Linked DNA regions of Homo sapiens: region 1 is linked to region 2. A link means that fine-mapping ties the variant in region 2 to the expression of a gene that starts in the linked region. Tissue or cell type: stomach. Region 2 holds a variant in brackets; the other region holds the start of a gene. All regions are shown on one strand. Distances are between the middles of the regions.

Region 1 (2,690 bases), 44 kb before region 2:
GCTAACCAAGAGCTGTCTTTGTCATTTTGGGATGTTCACGGGCTGGAGTCCCAGTAGCCATCTCCTAAATCCTAAACCCTTCAGTTCTTCAGCCATTTTGCTGCTAGAAAGTGTGTAGCTGCTGCCTTTATCCAAGGAACTGATATCTTCCACACCTCTGAAACCTGGAAGACCTTCTCAAGGTACATAGGGAACTTCCTGGCATTGGGAATAGGATGGTTTCTTCTCTTATAGGGTTTTATGCACCAAAAAGAGAAATGCCACTTCTTCTCTTTCTTCCTGAACTTTTAAAAAAGTAGTCCTGCCAAGTCTCATCATTTCTCAAGCACCTGTCCTTGGTCCTCTGCTTTTCTCTCTATATAATCTCCCTAGACAACCTCATCCACCTTTCTAACTGCAAGGAAAAACGCTGTGTAGATTTCTCAAAATTCTGTTTCTCTGAATTGGTCTTCTCATAAACCTGCAGATCCCATGCTCTCATCTTGCTTGACATCTCCACCAGGGTGACATCAACACATTCGAACCTGAGGTCCTTCGCCCTCCGTGCACCTAAAGCAGCTGCCCTTTTCTTTCTTCTACAATCTCCGTCCTCCCAGTCACCTGGCACATTCTTAGACTCTGCTTCTTCTTGCCCTTCATAGCCCATGGGTGACCACCGTCTGACAATTTTGTATCTGTACTGCTTTTATTTATCAACTCTGCTCCCTTCTTATTGTTTCTATTCTAGTTCTTTATGTCCCATTACTTCCCACCTAGATGATTACACTAATTGCTTAATCTGCTCTTCTGATTGCCAAGGCCGTCTCTTCCATAAAAGATAATTCCAGACAAAAAGCTATTGTCTAGATTAATCTTTCTGTCCTAAGAATGTATCAGTTCTTGATCTAGATGCTTCTTACATTTATCACTAACCTTTGTATAAAGTATTATTTTATTCAACAAAGATTCATTGCTGAGCAGTCTGTGAGAAAAGCAATGGGGAGCAAAACAGATAAGATATCTACCCTCATGGCACTTATAGTCTCGTGGGATGACAAACATTAATCAACTAATCACAAATATCACAACTAAAATGTGCAACCCCAAATTGCAACACATACCTTGAAGGAAGACTGCAGAGTTGCTAGGAGAGCTCACAGGTTTCATCACTTTCCCAGAGGGAGGACTGTGTAGGATTCAGCCTTAGATCCTGAAAGTCTAGTCCAGAGCCCTGCACATGGAAGTACTGAATAAGTTGAAGGAACATATGCATCAAGAAAAAAAATTCAAAACAAACTAACAAAAAACACAAAAAATGAAAAAAGAATAAAACAAAGAAAAAAAGCCAAAAGAACATGTGCATCTACTTCTGACATATACATGTGTGATCTTTTCTGTACTACACAATACTGAATAAAACACACACCGGATGTTCCCTCAAATACTGACCTCAACACATAGCCACGTTAGCTGTTTGCTTTTGTTTCCATGACCACATGTCCATGGGGCATCTAATCTCTAAATACACCCTATTTTCTTTGCCAGCATGACAACATGTAGAAACTTGTTATCCTGGTAGCATTACCAAGAATAATTGTTGCTTTATGGTGAAAGTTTTTAGGCATGCTTTAATACTTTGCTGTTATCACCAACACAAACCCATCATCCCTCTTCCCTACAGTTTGGAATGTTTGCTGAAGATGTCAAACAACATTGTTTCTTTTGCCCCTTGGGAAACTGGTTCATCCTCCAGCTGTCCTTTGTGTCATTCGCCAGCTTCCTCTCCATTTCCAAAGCTGTTTGAGTATTACCTCTTCATCCTCATGCTCTTACCTTTTGTCTGTCACTCTTTCATCATTCTGCTATTATGATCACGTAATTTTTGGAGTCAGCTTTTCGCTGGAACACTGAGTGACACATATCACTTGGCTTATTTTATCTCTTTTTTTTTCTTTTTACAATACTATTAGATAATTTGTTTCAAGAAGCACTTTTGTGCATAGAATCTCAGGTCTGATTTGGGTGTGTGTGTTGTTTGTTTCCAGCTTTGAATGAACAAGGACTGGAAAAGATGAGCTTATTTGTCATGGTAGGAAAAGAAAAACTGCAAAAAAATACAATAAATTTCACCAACAGAGAATGTGTTATATAAATAAGGGAGCAACTACATGTTAAAAAATGCAGAGCCATGATCCTGAAGACAATTTAATGACCTGGAGATACAATGCAGTGTTAAATAAAAAGCAGTTTCACCCCAATATTTTAACATTATATAGTATATTTACATATATGTAGGGGAAAATGCTGGACAACCATACAAAAATGTGACTAGTGATTTTCTCTAGGTGATGGAATTTTATTTTCATATATATATATATATATATATATATACTTTTTTTTTTGAGAGAGGCAGACTTGCTCTGTCCCTCAGGCTGGAGTGCAGTGGTGCAATCTCAGCTCACTGTAATCTCTGACTCCCAGGTTCGAGTGATTCTCCTTCCTCAGCCTCCCAAGTAGCTGGAATTACAGGCGCGTGCCACCAGGCCTGGTTAATTTTTTTGTATTTTTAGTAGAGACAGGGTTTCACCATGTTGGTCAGGCTGGTTTCAAACTCCTGACCTCAGGTGATCCACCCACTTTGGCCCCCCAAAGCGCTGGGATTACAGGCATGAGCCACCACACCTGGCCTCTTCTATATATTTTTTAAAGGG
Region 2 (2,690 bases):
TCTGATTTTTGTCAACCGAAATGTCTTTTCTTTCTTTTTCTAAACCAAAACAGAATATACTAAATTGCTAAGCAGCTAAACTTTTTTAGTCATTGGTGAGAAAGCAAGCAGGTTTAGCAATTGAGAGAACAGAAGATTTTGGATATTAAAATCAGGGATCAAAACAATTCCAGTATTAACCACTGAGTGTTACTAATACAAAGACTCACAACAGCAAGAACACTACTAAAATTCAAATGATTGTATTCAGCTAAGATACAATTCTTATAGAGCTTACCTATGAATCGCTCAAACATATCTATAGACACACATCTCCTGGTTGAGAAGCATGGGTGCTCCATAGATTAAATATGATAAATGTGTACCAGTTAAGGGTCCATTAACTACTGATAGAAGAAAACTTGAGAACCTTGGTAGCCTAGCAAAAGAAAAGTTTATTTTTTCTAATGCAGAAGTTGTAAGATTCAAACTGGAGCTACAGAAGGCCATCAAGAGAGGACTCTCATGCATGATTTGCCTGATAACAGAAACTATCACAGGAAGTTTTTCTGTTGTTTTTGTTTGTTTGTTTTTTCTTTTTTCTTTTTTTTTTTTTTTTTTTTAAGATGGAGTCTCACTCTGTGCCCCAGGCTGGAGGTTTTTTTTTTTTTTTTTGGGGACAGAGTCTCGCTCTGTCTCCCAGGCTGGAGTGCAGTGGCACGATCTCGGCTCATTGCAAGCTCCGCCTCCCGGGTTCACGCCATTATCCTGCCTCAGCCTCCCAAGTAGCTGGGACTACAGGCGGCTGCCACCACGCCCGGCTAATTTTTCGTATTTTTTAGTAGAGACGGGGTTTCACCATGTTAGCCAGGATGGTCTTGATCTCCTGACCTCGTGATCCACCTGCCTCAGCCTCCCAAAGTGCTGGGATTACAGGCGTGAGCCACTACGCCTGACCTTTTTTTTTTTTTTTTTTTTTTTTTTTTTTTTTAAGACAGAGTCTGGCTCTGTTATCCAGGCTGGAAAGCAGTGGCACAATCTCAGCTTACTGCAGCCTCTGCCTCCTGGGTTCAAGCGATTCGTGTGCCTCAGCCTCCTGAGTAGCTGGGATTACAGGCGTGCACCATCACACCCTGCTAATTTTTGTATTTTCAGTAGAGGTGAGTTTTCACCATGTTGGCCCAGCTAGTCTTGAACTCCTGACCTAAAGTGATCCGCCCGCCTTGGCCTTCCAAAATGCTGGGATTACAGGCGTGAGCCACCAGGCCTGGCCACAGGAAATTTTTCTAAACCACAGCTTACTACATGAGTCACATGAGCACAGCTAGGCACATATACAAGAACATTTGCCTGGCACACTGTCTCACAAACCCAATCCAAAACTTCAAGGGCATATTCCTAATTTATTTGACTATCAGGCCATAACTAAATAAGATAACGGGTCCTACCAGCAACTTCCAACATTTGCCAATCAAAACTCGCCAGCCCTTGTAAGACTTTGCCAATGCCAATAA[G/A]CTTTCTTTCCAAACAATTTACACACCTCCTATTTCCCCAAGAAAAACTTAACCTTATCTTTTGTTCTCTGGACATACTAGAAGCCACCACCATCCATATTTATGTCCTGGATTTCAATCCTTCTTCTTATATATTATGCCTAAATAACAACTTTTTACTTGGAAATTCACCTCTCTATATTTTCTATGTTAATACTAATATAAAGGCTGGTTGAGACTTGGAATTACTGAGCCTTTGTCATTCAAAATCTTTCCTTCGAGTTTTACTTGTTACTGTTTGTGGTCTAGAAATAGTCAACTTTTCCAACTCTGCAAGGCTCTACATTTCTAGACTATAGTCGTCCATCTGTGAGGGGATTAGTTCCAGGACCCCCTAGGATACTAAAATTCTCAGTTGCTCAAGTCCCTGATATAAAATGGTATAGTATTTTCATATAACCTATGCCTATCCTCCTTTATACTTTAAATAATCTCTATATCATCCCTATATTACCTATAATACCTAATACAATGTAAATGCCATGTAAGTAGTTGTTATACTGTATCATTTTTTATTTGTATCCCTTTTTATTGTTACACTGTTATTTTTTATTTTGGAGGGTTTTAAAGAATATTTCTGATCTATCATTGGTTGAATCCTCTGACGTGGAACCCACAATTGTATTCCCTCTTATTTCTGCTTTAAAATTGGCCAATTTACCTCTTTCCTCTACTGTTATGCTAATCACAGCCTGTAATGACCAACGCTCACCACTAACATTCTTATTTTCCAACCTCTTTGCCTCAGCGGGCTAGCAGGCTGCCTTCTGGGTTATCACAGGTAGTGATTAAATGTTCTGCCCTGCACAGCACAGATCTCCAGTTTGTTGGTCTCCATCCTCATATGGCAATGTCCTCACCTCCCACTGCCTGAACTCTAAGACAAGCTTTTAGGTTTTTGTTAAAGCAGCACTCCACTTATAGGCACAAATTTCTCTATTAATTATGGAGGGATAACTGCTGCAACACATAACCCCCAAATCCTGGTTACTTAACAGAAGTCTATTTCTTGTTCACGTGAAATCCATGAAAGGTTAAGTGAGACTTATGGCTTGCTTCAAAAAGAAGTAAGGAAGATTTTGAATCCTACTCACTGTGTTGGATTTCTGAAAAGAGCCTGCTTTATCCCAAGTTCATAATTTCTTTCTTGTGATTCAT

Direction of the effects. Alleles are on the strand shown, and positions count from the first base shown. SD is a standard deviation of normalised expression in the study named.
For the expression in stomach of the gene that starts at base 1,394 in region 1, allele G in region 2 goes with a lower level than allele A (small effect, 0.38 SD a copy in GTEx).

Evidence for each region. PIP is the estimated chance that this variant, and not a neighbour inherited with it, causes the effect. A credible set is the group of variants that fine-mapping cannot tell apart.
Region 1: TRMT9B starts here. The variant in region 2 is the best candidate, but not a certain one, in a credible set for the expression of TRMT9B in stomach (GTEx, PIP 0.87).

Annotation. Positions count from the first base shown.
Region 1 is chr8:12,944,377-12,947,066 of GRCh38, reverse strand. It overlaps TRMT9B (tRNA methyltransferase 9B (putative)), which reads right to left and starts at 1,394. Exons shown (of 5, transcript NM_020844.3): 1 at 1,101-1,394.
Region 2 is chr8:12,900,520-12,903,209 of GRCh38, reverse strand. No RefSeq gene overlaps it. Among named protein-coding and RNA genes, the nearest start is that of TRMT9B, 44 kb to the left of the region's middle. RefSeq lists an enhancer at 1,982-2,483. The variant G/A (reference allele first, on the strand shown) is at 1,494.